Homo sapiens: one gene and its partners. The protein of the gene in region 2 interacts with the protein of the main gene of each other region in a pairwise test. Each region holds a gene or a part of one and is shown on either strand. Other genes may lie near its edges.

Region 1 (7,428 bases), on a different chromosome or scaffold from region 2:
TTTAACTTCCTTCTCTGTAAAATGGAGATATGTTTCTACGTCATAGGGTGTTATGTGGGCTAAATGAAATAACCCATGTAGAAAACATCACACAGTAGGTTGGGGGCCTGTGAGTACTGTGATTTGCCTGATTATATGAAAATAGGCAAGTGTCCCTGCAAAACGACAATGCAACATTAGAAACCTGAGTGGGTTTGCATCTGTTTAGCTGGAGTGGTTTATTTACCTCCTCACCACCTGATGGAGATTTGAAGGGAGCAGCTTTCTGGAATGACTTGGGGTTTGGTGCTTCATTCCCACGAGGAGGCGAATCTGGCTGCAAAACACTTCACTGTGTGCCTTCCAGGAGGAAACCACTTCTCTCCAAGCCCCAGTGTCCATATCTGAAAAGAAGCGAGTTGGATTGGATCCACAGGACATTGGTCGTTAAGAGTGTAGACTTGGCACTGGATGGCCTTGGTCCACATCCTGGCTCTGCCACTCACTAGCTGTGTGACCTTGGGCAAGTTACATAATGTCTCTGTATCTCAGTTTCCCCTTCTGTAAAATGGGGTTAGTGATCAATTCTGCCTTTTGGATTTGTTGTGAGGGATTAAATGAGTTAACATAACTAAAGATTCAAAAGAATATCTGGCATGTAGCAAGAACTCTATCAGGGTTAAATACTGTTGTTACTGCTATAATGTTATTGCTGTTGTTAGATGCCCTCAATGGTCCTGTCTGGCTCTGACATTCTGTGAGAGTCTACACTGCCTCAATAGACTGAAGCCTGTTGTGGCTCAGCCATTCCTGGAAAGTGGAGTGGGATTTCCTCCCCAGCTTCTCCTCATTGAGGGTCCAAAGGACCCCCTCCTGTAGCCCTTGCGCCAGCTGAGCCTGCTGGACTAGGCCCTTCCAGATTAGGGATTGGCTCCTGACTCAAGTTTCTCTGTCACTGAAAGCCAGCTTTGCAAACATGAAATTACCCTTGGGGTCTCCAAGGTCTTCTTTCCCATGAGGCTACATGGGATTCATTACACTGCAGGTGAGGTGAGAAAGACATGAACTAAGGCTGACACATGGGCTGGACTGGAGATAGGGAGGAATATCGGCTAGGCAGGCAGCTGGGGGGCAGAGTGGATGGTTCAAGGGAGCAGGTGGACTGGAGGGCATCCTTGACCGTGGCCAAGGAGGATGGAAGGAAGCACAGGAGGGGTGTTGTTTGTCCACTGGTCCTCCCAGCTCCATCTTCCTGGGTAGGGACTGTGGTTGAAATAGAATCTTATGCCCTAGCTCCAGGCTTAGAGAAGGCCCCTAGTCTCTGAAGACATCTCCACAGGGCAGCTCATAGTCTTCTACCTTTCACAAAGACCTGCTCTGTTGGTGTTGTGTGGTGTATGTGTATGTTTGTGTGTGAGCATGTTTGCATGTCTTTGATTAGAATCTTCCTCTGCTAACCCATCTACATGGACCCCATTGGGTGCAAGAGAGGACACCCTCCCCTGGACAGCACCCTCAGTGACTCACCCAGCTGGGACAGAACCAGTTTTACACCAAGCATAGAGGCAATGAACGCCTGTGAATGAATTTAAACTCTCTCCTGAGTCACATGGACTGCTTTTCAAGTCCACATGGCCTTCCCCATTCAGTCACAGGACTGTGGAAGGTTCAAATTGGCCAGGATCTCAGAGATCATCTCATCTGACCCATGCCATCAGGAGTAAAAGGGTCCCAAGAGAGGCCTTTATGGGGCCTGAGCCTCTTGGTACCTGCCATATAATGCATTTCGTTCTTGTGGGGACAGGAGAGCATTAATGAATTCTGAACCTATCCCTACCCAAAGTCCCTGAGCCCTTTCCATAAGGCACTGAGGAACAATGAATAATGCACACAAATTCACTGCCCAGAGTTCTTTTGACATGGATATTCCCCTAATCGATGAAGGTAAGGTCTTGTGTCTTTTTTTTTTTTTTTTTTGAAACGGAGTCCCACTCTGTCACCAGGCTGGAGTGCAGTGATGCGATCTCAGCTCACTGCAACCTCCGCCTCCCGGGTTCAAGCGATTCTCCTGCCTCACCTCCCAAGTAGCTGGGACTACAGGCATATGCCACCACAGCCAGCTAATTTTTGTATCTTTAGTAGAGACGGGGTTTCACCATGTTGGCCAGGATGGTCTCAATCTCCTGACCTTGTGATCTGCCCGCCTCAGCCTCCCAAAGTGGTGGGATTACAGGCATGAGCCACTGTGCCCGGCCAGGACTTGTCTCTTTATCTCCCAAAGGAAAAGTCTATCAGGAGGTGTAATAAGATTATACCCTGGGAAGTGGTGGTGGATGGCTGGCGATCCAGACATAGCTAAATATTACTGGACACTACATTTGATAGAGGATAAAGTGGGGAGAGTGGTAAAAACTGTGTAACTCATTCTCAGTTCCTTGGAGTCCCGAAATTTCCATTTTATTGCAACGATAGGGATCCATGTATGACACAGCGCAGAGAGGAGTAGGTCCCCTAATGTGGGCTGCTGTTAAAACATGGAAAATGGGGTGAGTGTAGTGGCTCATGCTTGCCATTCCAGCACTTTGGGAGGCCGGCATGGGAGGATCACTTGAGCCCAGGAGTTTGAGACCAGCCTGGGCAACATGGCAAGATCTCATCTCTGTTTAGGAAACAACAACAACATCATGGAAAATGGAGGCCAGTTAGCAGGGCACACCTTGACTCGTGGATCTGCAGGCCATCCCCAGGCCCCAGGGAAGAGCACATGGGCTGTCTAGGGGGGCAACAGAGGCACGTGAAATGCTAAAGGCTCTGCATTGGGCCATGTTCACAGCCTCCTCCTTCCCCCTCCTGGAATGATGCAGCCTCCTCCTTCCCCCTCCTGGAATGATGCAGCATTGTGGCTCAGGAGGCCCCTGGAGCTCAGGGCCCCACCATGAGAAAGAACACCCTAGGGTGTTCTCCTGGGACTGCACTCCTGGGAGGTAGACTCCTGCCTCTCACTTTCTCCTTCCTCCAATCCCTTCCATTTCTGCAGCCAGAATGAGTTCTTCTAAAATGCAGATTGGATCCTGTCACCCCTCCAGCTTAAACAAACCTCAGTAACCTTTACAATAGAGATCAAAACTCTTCAATGGCCCCCAAAGCCTACCTGTCCAAACTCAACTCTCACTGCCACTCTTTCCCTTGCTCTCCAAGGTCCAGCCCTCCCCTCACACTCTCCATTGTCTCCTTTGGAGCCCCTACATCTACCTGCCCCATTAGACTGTGAACTTCATGATGGGAGGGCCCTGTCACTTGCTTACCTTTGTATTCCTAGGGCTTAACACAGTGCCAGAGCCAGGGCTCAACCCACGGTAGGTGTTCAACACATGTTTGTTGAACAAATGAAAGACCAGCCCTGACACTCAGAAACACACAGGGAGGACACACAAATGTATGTGTGTGTGCATGCATGCACACACATACACGTACTTGCGCAGAAGAGGTCAAACACCTCCCCTCTCGGAGCACATCCAGAGGTAGCGCCTGTAGAAATTGGCAAGATGCTAATCAACACATGTAAATATTCAGTGTCCTCCCCTGGATGCAAACATTCACCCCATTTCCCTTCTACTTCACCTGAATCCTCAATCAAGCCTCGCTTATGGGTGGCAACAAAGCAGTTCTCTGTCCTTAAGGAGAGAGAAGGTGGCTCTTTCAAAGCACACCAGGTGGCCTTATCTCCTGGGCCTCACCTGCCCTCCACTCTCCTTAAGAAAATCTGTTACCAGCCATTGTATTTCCAATTTCCACTTGCCATCCATCTGTCCGACCAAAAACCCAACCATCTGCCCTGCCGACTTCGCCCCCAACCCTGCTGGTCAGGTCACCCCTTCTGTTCCTTGAAAAGCTCCTGAGCAAGCTCACCTTCTCCAGCAGGCCTGCTGACTACACAGTTCCCAGGGTCTCCTCCTTCCTGGTCACTCTCGGTGGACTCTGTGTCTGTGACTCCGTTAATGGCTGCCTTCCCTCCCACTCCCAAAGTTTGCTGCCTGTTTGATACCACTTGGAGGTGTGATTCCCAAGAGGGCAGTGGCTTATGTATCTGTGTGACTTATGGTGTCAAAGGTCCCAAGGGACCAGCTTAGCTGAAAAGTTAAGGGTTTGGATGATGAAAATGTCCTTGCTAAAAAGGGTCGTATAAATGAGGCTTCATGGGGCAAATTTACACTAAGCCAGTCTGGTTAAGAGCTTAAAGCTCTGCAAAGCGAGGAGTTGGATGGACTGATGTCACAGGACCCTTCCATCTCTGACCTCCTCTGAGCTAGAATGTTAGCCCTGGGGGCCTTGCCCTGCCAAGCCTGGACTGGAGGAGAAGGAGGAGGCGGGGTGAGTGGGAGGGGCAGAGGGAGCAGAGGCGCCTGCAGCAACCGACACCTGCTCCAGCCCTGCCTGTCCACTACCAGTCAATCCAGAGCCTCAGCAAGCAGCAGCTGGAAACGGGGAAGAGGGAGCAGACAGGAAGCGGGAGGTCAGCTGTACACCCAGGTAAGTGGGTGCTCACACCTGGCTGCCCACCCGGGCCAGGGTAGGGCCAGGATGGAGACACTAGCCTGCTGTCCAGCTTTTCTACGCAGGAAGGGGCAGGCAGTGGGCAGGATGTCTGCCTGGGGAACATTCCCTGGCTGGCGGATCACACGCTGGGGTGCACCTGTATCCCCTCTAGGTTACTCCAGGATATCTGGAGGAGAGAATTTCAGTGTGTCCTGTCTGGGCATTTCTGTCCTGGCTCTAATTTTCTGGACACGGCTTGACTTTGGGTGTGATACGATGACCAGATTAAAAATATCACTAGCAGTCCAGAATAAGGACCTCGGGCTGGGACTTGTTATATTTTGGTTAGTATCATGGTCAAAGCAGTTGAGAGAACTCCATTTGGCTCTTCCTGCCTCAATTTCTACCAGTTGAGAGGTAGCAGGGACCAACTGGAGGTAGCAGGGACCTGGATGTGCAGGATGGATCCGGGGAGGGTAGGGAAAAAGGATGGGGAGCCATAGGTCCTGGAGAGGGGGCAGGGAGGGACTGTCCCAGGATCCAGTGCTGAGAGTGTTGTTGGGACAGCTGAAGTGAGGACACAAACTGCTGTTTCCTTCTGGGAAGAACTGGAGTTCTTCTCAAATGTGGGAATGAATTATGGAGGAGAGAATTCATTTCCTTTCTCATCCCTTCCAACTGAGACTACATCCCTCTAGTCTCCAATCCAACAGATCTCTTTCCCTGTGTCATTGACTTTGTACCAAATCTGGCTTATTCTAAAAGAGAGTGGAGCTCCAGAAGTGGATGCTTAACGTCACATCCCTAAGTTCCCCCAAGAGCTTTGCTTCTTTTGCCCTCCTCTGCTGGGAGCTGTAGGCAGGAGGCTGGAGGGAGAAGAGTGGTATCAGCGTCATCCTTCTTCATGTGTGACCAATAGCTGAGTAACAGGATGATAGCTGCTCGTGGTGATGATGTGGGTGACGATGGGGATGATGACTCAGATAGCTGTGTTGAACTCAAACTACTCCAGTGTGGGGGTCACCGACTGGCACCAGTGCACTTGCATCTACCAGGAGGCTGCACTGAGGGGTGGGTGGGATGGGGGCCCTTGCAGCCCTCCCCCTGGCCGTGTCCAGCTGGGTCCTCATCCGTTGGTGGCTGCCTTCCCTCCCACCCTTCCTCGTGACTCCCTTCGGCGTAGTGCCTGTGGCACCCGTGACCACTCCAGAACGCAGTTGGCGTACCATGGCATTCCAGCACGCTAGGGTGCAGCGGCTGGGCTGGCGAGGGGCTGCCAGGGGTCAGAAGTGCCAGTGGGTGGCCGTTGCGAAATGGAATGATCTCCATGGGAGAGAGGAATTTGCTCTGTCATGTGTGATTCTATATTAATGATAAGGCTCTTTGGGCAGAAAATGGAGTCCCCAAAATGGAACCGCTTGGCCATGGGCCAATCGCACAGAGGGTGGGACTGCTGGAAGATTCTTTCAAGACATCCCCCCTCCCTGATTTATGGCTCTCATCCCACCCCAGACCCAACCCCCTTCCTCTCCTGTGTGGGACTCCCCATTGGCCATAACAGATGGATGCAATTAAGAGGAAATCAGGAGAGATGGTGGTGGTGAGAGAATGGAAAATACTCCTATTCACCTGACACTATAATTCACTGGCTTCTGAGGGGAGCAGATGGATTTATGGGGATCCTACAGGCCTGGGCCAAGAAGAGCTTAAGAGCAGCAAATTTGAGGCCTCTCCCCTGCAGACCTTGTGACTGGAAGGATTCTAGATTGGTGGAGCGTGGGAAGTAGAGGGCTTCAGTGTCCTGCCAGAAAATCTCAGAGTTGGGGGAAGAGCCAGGAGGCCCAAAGAATGTCCTTGGAGAATTCCCATTCCAAAGCCAATGGGGCAAGCTGAAAGGAGCCTGAATCCTTTCACAGCTGAAATCCTTTCACAGCTGAATCCTTACACAGCTGAAAGGATCCTGAATGGGTCTGATTTCCTCAGGTTTGGGAGGGTTGTGTCTCATGTTCTGGGCAGGGTAATCAGGTCTGGGGTCCCACCAGGAGGCCAGGCCACCAGCACAGTGTGCAGGCTCAGCTTATGGTTCCCTTTACCTGGGAATGTTACCAACTGGGTAGCATGCTACCCACTCCCTGGTCTCTGGGAAATTGGTTTTGCTGGGGACAGGGAATTGCAGGAAACTAATCAGTGCCATTAGTGGGTTAGAAAAGCTCTTGGGGGCAGCAGCTTTTTCCAGCTCCCACCCCAGACATTGGCTGATGCACTGATGGTGTGGGAGGGGTGGGGTGAGACCAGCCTGGATTTCTCAAAAGCAATTCCATTTCTGTTCTCAGGGTAATAGAACTTCTACCCTCAGAGGAGTCAAAGAGGAGGCAGAACTATGGCAGGTAAGAGAAGAACTAATCTCCCCTCCCCAGCCCTCCCTGGCGATCCTTACCAGGACAGAGAGGAGAGAAGTGGTAGGGATCAGAGATTTCTGGGAACTTGCCCATCTTGTTGTTGTTTTTTTTCTCCTTATTTTATTTTATTTTATTTTTATTGTTGTTGGCTTTTTTTGAGACAGAATCTCACTCTGTTGCCCAGGCTGGAGTACAGTGACGCGATCTCAGCTCACTGCAACCTCCACCTCCCAGGTTCAAGTGATTCTCCCACCTCAGCCTCCTGAGTAGCTAGGATTACAGGTGCCTGCCACCATGCCTGGCTAATTTTTGTATTTTTAGTAAAGGTGGGGTTTCACCATGTTGGTCAGGCTGGTCTCGAATGCCTGACCTCAGGTGATCTGCCCACCTCGGCCTCCGAAAGTGCTGGGATTACTGGCGTAAGCCACCGTGCTTGGCTTTTTTTTTGAGTCTTGGCTTTGGGTTTTGATTTGTTTTCCTGAGTAAGGAGTGCAAAGCCCCCACACGAGCTCCT
Region 2 (7,359 bases):
TCACCAGGCTGGTTCCTGGGGGCAAGAAAGGTCTGTGCAATTTCTAACATTCATTGAAATTTTCTGTGGAAGCTAGAAGTGTGCTCAGTGCCTTGAGAAGAGTGGGAACTTCTCAAGAATGATGGATGGCTTATAGACAGGAATAAATACATAGTCGATGCGTAGAGGCAATGTGTGTTGTGTAGGGAGCTGGGGATGGGAGATGTTTCTGAGAAGTGACCACCAGTCTTAGTGGAGTAGTGTCCCTACAGGAGGGAACCCTGGAGTTGTCAGAGTCACCAAGAAGGTTCTTTGCATTTTGATAGACTGCACAAGGCTTTTGAAGATTCAGTGGAAAATGGAATAGGAAGGAAGCTGATGCCTAACAGAAGCCATCTTCTCCAGTAATAGTTCGAAGGGACTGACCCCAAGTGCTAGAAAAAAAGGAAATGGTTTTAAAAGCATTTTCTTTAAATATTGCCATGAAGATTGTGTTTCAGGTTTAGATTTACATATTGTCAGATTTTTAAAAGAGAAAAAGGTATATCTTTAACAGACAAGTGAAACCTCCCTCAGAAGGTAAGAAGCAGTCGTTGCAAAGCAGTTCAATGTAACAACATGGAAAGCTTTGCAAAGGGGCCTTCACTGGAGCTGTAGTTCTGCTTTTATGAATTGTGACTTCAGGGAGGAGCAGAAAAAAACCATGACAAAAGCAGGTGGAAGAAGAGATGGAGAAAAGTTTGCAGAAGTAGAGGAGTTCACTTGCTGCTTCAATAGAATTGTTTTAAATTGTTAGTGGCTGAAAAGGACTGAATCTGCCTGTGCCATCTTTGCGAGAGTATTTACTTTTCCAAATCATTGTATCCTCTATTGACTCCTTGCTAATCAGTTAGGTGATGTGACTTCCAGAACTTTATTTTGAAGACTTATTCCAATATTCATTTATCCGAATGATGAGTCCACAGTTAGGATCTCCGTATTTTCCATGAAAAGCTTATTTAGCCTAGCTGGCTCTATACAATTCATTTAATAACTGAAACATTTATCTTTTTTGCCATAAAACCAAGACCAATATTTGCAAGGTATATAGATGGATGATCATTACTGGCATTTCAGGTGGAACCTGAAAGATAAAAATTTAATAAAAGCAAAGGAAAAATGAAATTAAGTTCAAAACCTGTTGTAAAGTCTTTGTTTCTCAGTTTATATACCCAGTTTGCCCCTTGTGTTTTTGGTGTGTGCTAATTAAGTGCCAAAAGTGGCCTTCAGTTAGTGCACTAGTGTACTAGTCTATAAGATGTGAGGGCACAGAAACTTTCAAAGGAGAAGCAGTGAAGTGTAAACTAGTACCCAGAACTACAAAATGATGCCGAGAAGTACTTCTCTGAAATTAAACTCAGGAGCATTTTTAAAATTTACCATCACAGTTCTATACTTATAAAAGAAATGTTTCTTTTCTCCCTAAACAGATATGTTCCTGGTAGTTAAATGTGGATGACTAGCCTAATTTCTTATAACTGTTCTAAAGTTATGTTATATGAAAGTGAGAGGCAGATCTTCTAAATTCTGGATGAGGCCCTCAGAGTAGGATTATTTTAAATGGGATTTTGTTTTGAGACAAGATCTCACCTACATTGGAATGCAGTGGTGTGGTCATTGCTCACTGCAACCTTGAACTCCTGGGCTCAAACAATCCTCCCATCTCAGCCTCCTTAGTAGCTAAGACTATAGGCATGCATCACCATGCAGGGCTGATTTTTTCATTTTTTGTGGCGATGGGGGTGTCGCTATGTTGGCCAGAATGGTCAACTCCTGGCCTCAAGTGATCCTTCTATCTAGGCCTCCCAAATTGCTGGGATTACAGGTGTGAGCCACTGCACCCAGCCCTTAAATGGGCTTTTAAATCTCCCAAAGAGTGAGAACAAAATTTACATATTCACTAAACACTGCTTATTCAATGACATGATTTGAAATAATATTTTATTGAATAAATATTTCAAATCATGTCATTGCATACTGAAGGGAGCTGACTTCAGAAGTGTGGAAAGTGCCTTTCCTTATCCTCATAGACTTGAATTTCTAGGGCTGGGTAGAGATTGCTGTCCTGGCCTATGTGTGGCTCAGCCTTGGGGTAGGGGGTTGCATAAGGGGAGGGAGAGGGTTAACCAGCTGGTGTTAACCACATTGGCAGCTGTTGAAACTGCCAGCTCACTTTAACTTCTTGGTCAAAGATGCCAGATTCTAAAAGTGGGGGAAGTGGGAGCTATTTGTAATGTGTACATTGATAAGATGTTACAGCCTTCAGAGGTATAAAGAGATGGAAACTATTTCACTCCAAAAACGCAGGTTGCTGGTCTCGTTAAGAGCGCAAACCTTTGTTTGAGCAGGTACAGAATACAGACCTTATGGACTTCAGCAGAATCCTGTCTATCCTAGTGACACAAAATTGTCACTTTGACTTAAATCCTGTTATTTTATACAGAAACACTGCATTTGGTGTAATCTATTTGCTAGAAAATATCCAAGTGTCACAAAAGTTCTGCAAGTGTAACTTCCTGCTTACTTTAATTCAAGAATAGCAGTTTAAATTCACAAATAGCAGTTTAAATTCACCTTAAATTCAACAGAGCTAATGCCTCTGGCCTCCTCTACAAAGATATCACAGGAAGAGATTATTGCAGCTTCTATTTCAATGGCTTTTCCTTAAAGTGAGCACTGAAAGTATAAGTGAGTGGGTGGTTAGGAAACTGTTAGTAGTTAATGCCCTCTCTAAACTGCAGAACTCTGGAAATGAAAAATATCTTCGCTTCACAGCAAAATGTTTGAATGTTATGCCACTCAGGCGCAAACTGAGCAAGACCTGCAGAGGGCCGGTGAGCACAGCTTCCATAATATGTCATTTTGAATGCCATTATAATGAGACTTTGCAAAGATATCCACAAATAATTAGCTTTTGGCTTAGGTTATACTGTATAAGACTTTAATTATACTGAGGGTCCAGTAAAAACCTTTTCCATCCTCCTTAAAGATAAAACAAGAAGCGTTGTCTCCTCTATCAACATTTCAGCACAAGTTTAATTTCGATGAGATCATCAATTTGATTGATAACAAATCATTACAGAACAGTTTAAACAAGTCTAAATTTCTCTTGATGTTAACGACTTACAATCGCCTTTATGTTAGGTCTTAAAGCTTTATTATTCTTAAATACAACTAGTATAGTGGACCATTAAACTCCAAAGTGATCTGAAATGATATTGATTGGGGTGGCAGCCAAAATTTTAAGGTGCCTGCCTGCATTGCCTTTTACATCTTGACGCTGAATGCACGTGTAATTTTTAAAATAATCATTAATTTTCCAGTGGAACCATCTATCTGGCCTCTTTCCCTAGTGCTCTTAAATTCTCACCATTTGGGCATACACACATTCTCTTCCAACTAGTATAAATTTCCCTGGTAAATTTAAGTAGTTCCAAGCATAAGCTTACTCCACGGGAGGGAAAGGCTATCAATGTGAAACTTGTGGGCAGAGGACTGCGCCTCCGACCTGGCTGCGTCTCCTAGCTTGGCTTCCCTCCTGCCGGGTCTGCACCGAGCCCCGGCCGGCCCCGAAGGATGCAACTCGTTCGGTCCGGCTCCCAAAGTGCCGTGGACTTGGTGACCCACTTCTCGTGTCGGGCTGAGGCCACGCGGGCAAGGGACTTTTTCTGTCCCCGGCTCACGGCTGGAGCCCCCATCCTGCCGTTCGGACCAGTGCGGGCCTCGGAGGAGTGTCCCGCAGCGGACCCCCGCCCAGGAACCCCTGCAGGCAGCGAGACGGGCGCCCGGGCCAGCTCTCTGCCCCTCGCCCCCCGCGGGGACCCTGCCCGCCCCGCTGACCGGCCCCACGTTGCCAAATAGCTCAAATGCTTGTCATATTTGCGGTCGCGCGGCTCCGCGGGCTGTGCACGCGCTGCACTCGCCGCCGCCTTTGTCACCAGCCGCTTCGTCATTCGCCTGAGCACTTCTAGAGTGTGTAGGGGGCGTTACTAGTGGCAGTGGTGGTCCTCGGGCCGGAGTGTCTCCTTCTGTCTCCCCTCCTCTTTCAGCCCGTCCTTACGAGAAAATCAGGGGCGCGCCGGCCCGGCAGGGAGCTGGGGGCGGCGCTGCCACCAGGCGCCCACTGCGCCCCGCCGCCCCTTCCTGCTCCTCCTGCGGCCGCGGCCGGCCGCGGCCGGCCCCGGCCTTTATCGCGCCTCCCGGGACCGCCGGGGAGAGGCGGGCCGGGGCGGGGCCGGCGGGGGCGGGGTCGGGCGGCCAGGGGCGGGGCCTGCGGCGCCGGGGCCCGGAGCTCGCGGGAGGCTCGCGGGCCGCACGTCACTCCTGCACGGCGAGTGCTGGAGCACGACGTACCGCTCGCTCGGTCAGGGCGCCCCCTCCGCCCGCCTCCTGCTTCCTCCTCCGCTGCCTGCCGCCGCCGCCTCCACCATTGTATAATGCTCGGGGCGCGCAGGCAGAGAACGGCGGAGTCTTAGCTTCAGCCTCGCCTGCTGCCCGCTCCCCGGCGCCACCCTCGGGCCCCTGGAGCGGGGCACTCCGCATGGAGCGGGAGTAGCTGAGGAGTGGGCGGAAACCCCTCCTGATGCGTTAGTTCCCAGGTGGAGCTGCATGTGGTAAGTTCTCCCGGCGTCGGGCTGGAGGGGATCCGCGGGCGCGGGGGGCTCCGGGTGGATGGGGGGCCGGTGTTGGGACTCGGCCAGGGCTGGGAGAGCCCGGAGGGCGGAGGAGGGGCCGGGCGCCGCCGCGGGAGGGAGCCGGGGACGGAGCAGGTACGGGAGGAGCGCTCCCTCCCGCGGCCCCGGTCCGGGCCCCGCGCTCTCGGACCCCCGGCGCCTGCGGGCTGAGCCGCTGGGGGGCAGGGCCGGGGTCAGGAGGGGGTCGGGAGCTCGGAGAGCCGAGCGGCGGGCGGGGGCGCCTGGAGCTGTCGCCTCTACAGCTGGGATGTGTGTGCGCGTTGTGGCGGTTGTGTTGTTGTGAACGTGCGAGACTTTTTTTAAGGCTCGGATTGCTGGCGCGAAGGCTGCTTCACTTTTGAGTTCCGTGGCCGGGTTTGCATCCAACTTACTGTAGTGCGTTTTTGTGAATTTCCCGGTGTTTTTTTTAATAATGTTGAAAACCTTCCTCTCCACCCTCTTTTCTTTCGTCCATGCCCAAATGAATTGATTTGGGATCTACATGTATATTAAACTTAACGTCTCGTTGGTTTTTAAGTTAGAAATCTACAAGTCATCTTCGTGGTAACCGCCTATGACTGAAAGGGAGGGGGCTGAGGGGAGCCAGCTGTCCCAAGCCCTAGACTTTGTACCAGTAAGAGAGGGGGTGTCGTCACAGGGCCACTACATGGACAGAAAATCGTATTTTGTTTTGTTTTCTTGGCTATAAGTTACCTTTAGCAGAAGTGGTAGTAATAGATTGCGATGGGAGTCGAGTTTTAGGTTTAGTTTCTAAGTTTCACGAAAATATCAGGTATAGTTTGCATTGGAATAACTTTTTGCTTGCAAGCCGAGTCGTTTCAGGAGGTAGAAAGTAAGTTTTCACAGACACTGAATGGGGAGGACAGTCAGCAGAGTGAGACAGCCAGCCTCAGACCACAGCAGTTTTTATTTGAATCGAATTGGGCAGCCTCAGTTGGGCTTAGGGTAGAGAGTACATGTTTTCAAGCTTTGTTCATGAAATACGCTTTTTGATTTCCCAATGTATGTTAAGAAATATCCATAATGTGTGTAAAGAGGCTAGAAGTTGTAGTCACCAGGATTCCTGAGGCCCTAAGTGTTCACAGTAGCTTTTTGTAGTTAGAGACTAGTCCCTGACAAGAGTGAAGTGGGCTTTGGGCTTCGCTCCGCCCCTGAAGGACCGTCCACCTGAGAGCGTCTGGGCTGCTTGGCCGATGGGGGTTGGGGGTAGTTGCTCAGCTCAGCAGAAGGCATGTCTCACCCTGGCAGCTCCCATCCCTCCCCCTTTTTATAGCAGTCTATTCTGATATGAGTGTGCTAGGGTGTGCTGTGAAGATGAAAATATCCATCCTAAGATCCCAACTTCTGGAGTGAACAAGAATAGTTTGTTTGTGGATCTCTGCTTTTCTGTTTATTTTTTCAGGGTTTTTTTTCTTTTTATTTAAAAGAGACAAATGTTTAAAAGTTTTCCTTTAGCTTCATTGACTTCTTTAGAGGGGTATTATATGTTAATATAAAATTGTTTATGTCGTTCATTAAGTTTGGAATCCTTTAACAGTTTTTTTTTTTTACTTGTTTCACCCCCTAATTAAAATATACATAACCATGTTGTTCTCAGATGAGAAATCTTATTTTGGATTTGACATCCCCCAACCCCCTTTTTCCTTAACACCCGGCCCTTTTCCTTACTTCATTCAGACAGGTAAGGGAGAGGACTCACATTTTGTAAAGCCAACCAAGTGTATGTGTGACAGGAGGTGTCCTAGGGAACGGTTTTATTGTCAGGCGAATGTCACAGCGTCTTAGGTAACAGCTGCTCAAGCTTGTTTCCCTTGAAGAACTAAGAGAAGGATATTAATTCAGATTTAGAAAATCTTTACACTTCTGTTTGCTGAATTGTCCCTCTTTAAAGCTTTTCTATTTAATTGAGAAGCTAAAATATGAATTTTGCCCAGTTGCTACACACTGAATTATTACTGATAATGAGCCTAGTAAAATAGCACATATTTTGATATTTTAAAACTCATTCAAATTTGTGTGGCGACTGATAGCTTATGGTATCTGCTATTTTAAACAGGGTTCCAATGGCAGAGTAAGTTACAACACTACTTTAGAAAGGCACACACATGCATCACACACAAAAAACATTACAAAACGTATGAAGGCAGTTTGAAGATGTTCGAATGCAAATACATAAAAATTTCTATCAACTTGCAGCATGCTACTTTTATTATCAGTGTCCAATTATACTACAAGTTTACCCTCAGACAAAATATTTTACATTTTAGTAACTAAGAAAGGTGAAAGCTGGAACAGAAACTTTGAGAGGTTTCTTTTGCTGTGGTTTCTTGTTAAAAAGCACAGAAAAAAAAGTATGAAGCTTTATTTTATATTTCACATATATCAACAGAATCAAGACCACTTTGTCAATATTACCTGTGGAAAAAGCTATATATAGATAGGCGTATTTGGGGCCATGAACTTTAATTCACTCATAGAATTTTTAAAGCTTCTTGGCAACAGAAATTTTGTATTCACTGTCATGGCATATCCTATAGGAGATAGCTCTAGTTGCAATAGTTACTTGGTGCGTGAGAGAGAGAGCAAGCGCAGGCGCCGTCTCTGATTACTGAGTCCAAAGATCAGTTGTGTACTGAAGGCACCAGAA
Region 3 (7,026 bases), on a different chromosome or scaffold from region 2:
GATTTTTGTCTTAGTAGTCCAGGCAATAGAATTCTTAGTGGTTTTAGTGTGGGAGAGGCAGCCAAGAAAGGGAAGCTTGAGTTAATCATCTATGTCTATGCATGGTACCACTTCCTGGGAGGGACACAACTGATGCTTGACACACAGGTGCCGATCAAAGATTTTTCTTAGTTGTTGCCAGAACATGATTGAGTTAGAAACCAGTGTGGCCTGGGACTGGGAAGCTCATTAAAGGAATTGGGACTTAAACTGGGAAGGGCAAGTTGGCTCTAGATCCATAGAAACTGAAGACAGGGGCAGAGAGAGATGGTATTATAGATGGAAGAAGGGGCAGTGGGTCATGGAATAAATATTGGTGAGCAGGGGAGCAAACCAAAGGGGTAATTGGGAGATTCTGAGTTTTCAAGGCTATTAAAATGCAGTTCCAGGCCCTAGGGAGGAGAGTTCCAGACTGTTTTCTCTACACTGCTATAATTCCTTACACTGCTGGGAGCAGTTTCTTTGACATACTTTGCAACTGCAGAGGGCTTTTAGGAGAGCCGAGTTTTGTTTTTAAGTAACAGATCACTTCTTGATCTCATTTTTACAATAGTTAGCTCCCCCTTTCACAGTATGTTTCATTCCCCCTTCCTAGCCAAACGGCTAATCTTGGAATAAGGCGGAGGGTCCTGCCCTCCTCTCCCCATCCTAGACAGTAACTTCTGAGGCACTTCTTCCAGGCGAGCCAGCCCTTCACACAAATCACAGGTGCTGACGGGACAGACCCAAGTGTATTATTAGATAAAAAGAGCTCTGTCCACCGGGCGTGGTGGCTCACACCTGTAAACCTTGCACTTTGGGAGGCCGAGGCAGGCGGATCAGGAGGTCAGGAGTTCGAGACCAGCCTGACCAACACGGTGAAACCCCGTCTCTACTAAAAATACAAAAATTAGCCAGTCGTGGTGGTGGGCGCCTGTAATCCCAGCTACTCAGGAGGCTGAGGCAGGAGAATCGCTTGAACCCGGGAGGCAGAGGTTGCAGTGAGCCGAGATCACGCCACTGCACTCCAACCCAGGCGACAGAGCCAGACTCCATCTCAAAACAAAAAACAAAACAAAAAAAAAAGAGCTCAGTCTAACAAAGATCTACCTAAGACCCTGTCAGGGCCACAGAGACGGAAAAAATTCCAAGTCAATCGAAATAACTAGGAAAGAATGCCTTGTGCGGATCATACATAGCACAGTGGTTCCTAGTAGTGAACAGGAGGCAGGATCTAGAGGGAAGACATTGAAAATCGCTCAAGGTCTAATTAAGAGTAACATCTCCAGCGCTTGATTCTGCCCTTAAAGCAGAGTAGGAGGGTCATCTCCCATCTTTCCTGCGGTGTGCCCCCTCCCTGAGCCAAGGGGGGGCGGGGGTGTAAATTTCCCCCAGCTCCTGACCAGGGGGCGCCTGGGGGCAGGCAAGATGGAGGCCACGGCTCCAGGCAGCTTGGCCAGCATGCTCTGGGGCTGTCCCCGCCCCTAGGGGCGAGCAGCCCTGGCGGCTCCTAGAGGCGACTGGTGGGAAGTCTGCCCCCTATGGGGGAGGCAGAGGACTGCACTCTTGTCCAGGGCTGAAACTGTCCACACAGCCATCCAGGAATTTCAGGCTGAGCGTGTTTGGGCAGAAGGGAGGACACCCAGCACTGGCATTGGGAGAACTCCAGATTCCCTACAAGCCCAGAGGCCTTTGGTGTTAGTATCCTGAGACTGTTAGAGAACTTGAGGTCCTGGGAGGACCCTGTTATTTTTATATCTCTGTTCATCTAGAACAGTGCTTCCCACCCGCTTCCCTTTTTCTGTATGTTAACCTAAATCCCCTGGTGTCCAGACACATCTGTTGCTCCTTAATTTAAACAAGTAAAAACAAAAAACAAAAAAAACCTATATTCTTCTGTTCAAAAGGTTCTCATTTTCCCTGGGCAGTTCAAAATCTTCACAGTTTCACTTTGCTTCCTATTAAAGATTAGTTGGTATCTGGAATTGAAGACCATGAAGGCATAGGCTCTAATCTAACATAACCCTGGAGCTGGGCTTGAGGGGCCTCTGCAGATTGGTGCTGTTTTCCCTTGGAAGATACCACAGTGTAATTCCTGGTAACAGATGTGACAGAGACATGCACGGACCAGCATGGGCAACCACAGCATCACTGTTCCCATCTTCCTGCCCTGTTCCAAAAAGCAAAACAAGGGAAAGTTGATACACTGGGGAAGACCAGATTATTGATGAGAAGTTGTTTTCTGAGCTAAAAAGTGTTTCAACATCCCACACTGCCTGATTGGGTTTACCATCTCATTGGCCTATTTTCCATACTATAGCATAGTGGGAAAGGTGTCTTCCATCTCCCTTCCTCATAACCCCTTAATGAAGATTGTTTCCAGCTGCTGCCAGCTGGGGTGATGCTTGACACACAAATCAAGAGTTAGCGGTGGCTCTCAAAGTGTGAAAGTATAGGAATCACCCTGGGAGCTGCACGCTGGGTTCAGATCCGATGTTTTCAAGGCAGGGCCTGGGCATGTGTATTTTCAACAGTCTCTGCAGGTGACACTAACATACCTCAAAATTAACAAACCCCTGGCGGAGGTCATGCATTGTCTCTGTATGGACTGAGCTCAGCAGGGAGTAGACCTAGCAGAAACCGCTCACTGTAATTCACCAGAAACTCCAGTACTGAGCACCTAATGGGGGCCAGGCTCTGTGTTACGCACTGAGGGTACAGAAGTGACGAAGTCGCAGCCTCCCTGTCCAAAGAGCAGACAGGCTAGTGGGGAGTAGATCTCTGAGTAGTGGGGTGAGGCCTGATGGAAGGGTCTATGGCTCAGGTAAAAGGCCCTGGCCCCTGTATCTTATTAAAACAATTACATGTCAGTCCCAGAATCGCCTCTCCTAGGGAAGGGCTTCTGGCTTGTAAGCTCAGATGTAACAAAGAAGGACACAGTGATCATCTCCAGAACCCACTAGAGGCAAGATAAGGCAAAATGGGTTTCAGTTCTCTGTCGTCAGGTGACTTTTGCTTGCACAGGTGGTAAAGTGAATTTTCTTATTTTCTTTTTTATGTTTTTCCTTGAGGTATATCACAGAAAAATTCTCGAGTCTAAAGTGTACCCCTTGAGGGATTTTTTTTTCATATGCATACACCTGTGTAACTACTATCCACATCAAAGAGGGGGCATTCTTGAGGTAGAAAAGACCTCACAGTGGGGACAAGTACCTGTTCAGCTTTGAACAGACTAAAGTAAAGCCTGAGATCTCAGGGTACAGCTGCTCTCCTTGGCCACGCGTAAAATTAACCCCTGAAATTAACAAGTGTCTGGTGAGTATCTGCAATGTGTTGGAACCTTTCCAGGTAAGTTCCAGGGCCCCTCAACTCTTAAGTCCTATATGGGTGGTTTGCAGTTTTAGGAGTTGAATTTCAAAAACAGAATTTGTGTTGACCCTGTATAATCTCCATCTGCTTTTCTTAATTAGCAATTGACCAACATCACCTTCAAAGGGCTTTTGTAAACTTCTCAAATTTCTCTCACTGTAAATCTTGCCAATAACTGAATTCATGAGGGAGTGAATTTGGGGCCTTTACTTGGGAAGGGTACCTCCTTTCTGCCTGCCTCAATTTGCCTTCCTTTTCCTTTAATATTGTATTTTTATTATCTAGGGCAAAAAAAAAAGCATACTATTACATTACAGCTTATAATGGCAACCCCTGAAGAAAACAGCAATCCCCATGACAGAGCAACACCCCAGCTGCCAGCACAGCTGCAGGAGCTTGAGCATCGGGTGGCCCGGAGACGGCTGTCCCAGGCCCGCCACCGAGCCACCCTGGCAGCGCTCTTCAACAACCTCAGGAAGACAGTGTACTCTCAGTCTGATCTCATAGCCTCAAAGGTATGGGGACCTGGAGGAGGAGAGGGGACATCTCCACGGGGAAGGAGACGTTTTCACAGGTGGAGGGACTGTGTTGCAAGGCAGGGACTGGCCTGGAGCTGCCACTTCTGCTGGGGTAGCGACAAATGCCCTAGACAGGGTAATTTATAAACAACAGAAGTTTATTGCTCCAGGTTCTGAAGCCTGTGAAGTCCAAGACAAAGGTGCCATCAGATTGGGTGTCTGGTGAGGGCATGCTCTCTGGTTCATAGACAGGGCTATCTTGCTGTGTTCTCACATGGGGGAAAGACAAACAGGTTCCCTCAGGACTCTTTTATAAGGGCACCAATCACCTTAATCACCTTCCAAAAGCCCCCACCTCTTAATACTATCATATTGGGGATTGGGTCTCAACATACTAAATTTTGGGGGGACACAAACATTCAGACCACAGCAGGTGGACAATCATCTTTCCACCCTACGAACAAGCCCAAGATGCTGGAAATCAGTCAGCCCCTGGTTCCAAGTCTTTGCTGACCCAACAGCATCAACATGAGCTCTGGGACTGGGGAGAGCAAAACACATAGGAGTGCTCAGGGAGCTTGCAATCCACTGTATCATCATGCAGCTGCGGTTCCCTTCACCTCCTCTTTGGCCTGGCAGAGCACTGTGACTCCAGCCCCCTCAAGTCTCCTTTTTAGGCACCACTAGAATCCTTGGAATCTAGAATGTCAAATCCCAGGCTACTCTGCCCCCAGCTGCTTTGGGGTCCCCCCTCCATGCCCACCCCACACTCTGGCCACATCTCACTGCAGCAGTTCCCTGAGCCAGGCCTGCCTCTCATGGCCTCTGTGTCTCTGCTCATGCAGTTAGCTCTGCCTTTGGGATTCTGTGCACACTTCAAAGCTGGGCTTGGCTCACTCTGCTCAGCTGCCCTGCTCCATGGAATCTTCTGGACCCCTCCAGTTGGACTATTCCCTCCTCCTTGTACATTTTCACAGCCCTTTGCTTCTACCCCTTGTTAGTACCTACTTAATTCTATATTGTGTTATAAGGGGTTGTTTCCATGCTTGTCTTCCCTGTCAGAGGTCAGCACCCTGAGAGAGGGGACTGTCTTATGTACTCTGTATCCCTGGGACTTACCACATAGTTTTGCCCTTGTACATGCCCAAGGGATGCATGCAGCCCCTGACAGATATAGGTGGTCAGCCTAACAAACAACATTTAGCATTGCTCGTTTTTGAATAATCTTGCTGTTACCATTTTAGCATTGCTCGTTTTTGAATAATCTTGCTGTTACCATTTTGACTTTAATAATGTTACATACAGGAAGTAAGGAGGGAAGAAGGAAGGAAGAGAAGAGGAGGAAGGAAAGAAAAAGGAAGGAAGGAAAGGAAGGGAGGGAGGGAGGGAGGGAAAAAAGGAAGTTGGAAGGGAGGAAGGGAGGAAGGAAGGAGGGAAGGAGGGAGGGAAAAAAGGAAGGAAGTTGGAAGGAAGGAAGGGGGAGGGAGGGAGGGGAGCAGAAGGGAGGGGAGGGAGGGAGAGAGGGAGGGAGGGAAAAAGGGAAAGAGGGAAATTTAGAGTTCAGGTTGACAGCATTTGATAAGTTTTTAGATCATCTGGAGCGTATGCAGTTAGCAAATAAAAATAGTGGGAGAATAGGACATTTAATATTAACTAGCCCTTTGCACAGGGTTACCACTGAGCTGAAGTCTAGCTCTGCTTTGTGCAAGCCTGGGGTTGACGTTCATGCAGAATGCGCCTCTTCCATCACTCCTTATTCCACCTTCAAGCCGCCTCTGTAGTCATTTGCCTTTCTACAGCACTAGCAATTTGCTGAACAAAGCTTAACTCTTTCCAAATCCTTTGGCATTTCGGTGAGAACCCACTTCTAGGCTACAAACAAAACTTCCTGCCTCCTGTGCATCAGAACAAACTTCCTATTCTTTTTACTGACAAGGTTAAGGGATGTGACTTTGCATCTGAGGGAGCGTGGCCTCAGCCCTGGGAAGGGATTCCTGGGTCCACAAAATCAGTCTCTGCAGTGAGAGGCTGGCTTTCAGCATTGTCTCTGTCTATCCTCAGTGGCAGGTTCTGAATAAGGCAAAGAGTCATATTCCAGAACTGGAGCAAACCCTGGATAATTTGCTGAAGCTGAAAGGTAATGGAGCACTACTTGCCAACCCCATCTCCCTCCCTGGAGAAAACTGGATCTGTTTTTCTATTGAAAACAGAAGTTGGGTTACAATGAATCAACAAATATTTATTGAGGGCCTACTGTGTGCCAGGAACTGTGCTTGGGCCAATGTTGAGGGTCCCTGTCCTTAGTGAGCCTGCAGTCCAGCAAGACTGGCCAGAGTCACCAGGCCATGAGACTCTGATGAGTTCCCTACTGGAGTGCTGCCAAAGGCACCTGATCTCATCTTCAGAGGCCAGAGGAAAAGTGGGCTCCTGCTTGTCTAAGGCTCTCCCTTCACACCTAGAAGGAAAAACTGGACCCTGGTCTCCCTAATGCTGACCCTGGAGGGTTCAGGGTCCCACCCACAGCCCACCTGGGCCAGAAGGGTGGGAGAGACTCAACAGAGGCCTGACTTTTCTCTTTGTGTTCCTGGTCTTCAACTCCCCAATAGCATCCTTCAACCTGGAAGATGGGCATGCAAGCAGCTTAGAGGAGGTCAAGAAAGAATATGCCAGCATGTATTCTGGAAATGACAGGTAAGACACCACAAACCCCAGGAAGCTGGGGACCTGCTGTGTCCTCACAGCCATCAGTACTGTCTGGTGGCAACTCACCCTTCCTCTCCAGCCTGCAGGACCATCAGGGCTGCTGCTCACCATTCAAAACAGCCATATGCTGGAGACCATTCGTTTCTCTTTTATTCTAGCAACATGCATCAATTTTTTCCCAATTATAAAAAGATACATGCTTATCACAGAAGATGCAGAAAATACACAAAAGCCAGAAAATATATATTGTCCCAGAACTCAAAGAAAATCAATGTTAATTTTCAAGAAAATCCATCAAGTTTTTAAAAAATGTTGCACATTATTCTTTAGAGAAATGAGCCCATAGTGTTTACATTATATTATAGCTTTTTCTATATGTATTTTTTAAAGCCACAACTAATGTCTTTCTTGGAGGATA

What was found.
Region 1: the proteins of SERTAD2 (region 2) and IGFN1 interact in binary tests that used the Homo sapiens proteins (3 or more experiments, as listed by UniProt).
Region 3: the proteins of SERTAD2 (region 2) and STRA8 interact in binary tests that used the Homo sapiens proteins (3 or more experiments, as listed by UniProt).

Annotation. Positions count from the first base shown.
Region 1 is NC_000001.11:201,186,399-201,193,826, forward strand, and holds the start of IGFN1 (immunoglobulin-like and fibronectin type III domain-containing protein 1), read left to right. Parts: upstream 1-4,425; 5' UTR 4,426-4,509; intron 4,510-6,848; 5' UTR 6,849-6,895; coding exon 6,896-6,902; intron 6,903-7,428.
Region 2 is NC_000002.12:64,650,892-64,658,250, reverse strand, and holds the start of SERTAD2 (SERTA domain-containing protein 2), read left to right. Parts: upstream 1-4,337; 5' UTR 4,338-4,631; intron 4,632-7,359. Other genes in the region: uncharacterized protein LOC124907776, read right to left, coding at 3,540-3,971. UniProt on the Homo sapiens protein: Acts at E2F-responsive promoters as coregulator to integrate signals provided by PHD- and/or bromodomain-containing transcription factors.
Region 3 is NC_000007.14:135,236,815-135,243,840, forward strand, and holds part of STRA8 (stimulated by retinoic acid gene 8 protein homolog), read left to right. Parts: intron 1-2,185; exon of another isoform or gene 2,186-3,704; 5' UTR 3,705-3,710; coding exon 3,711-3,902; intron 3,903-5,966; coding exon 5,967-6,042; intron 6,043-6,511; coding exon 6,512-6,596; intron 6,597-7,026. UniProt on the Homo sapiens protein: Meiosis-inducer required for the transition into meiosis for both female and male germ cells.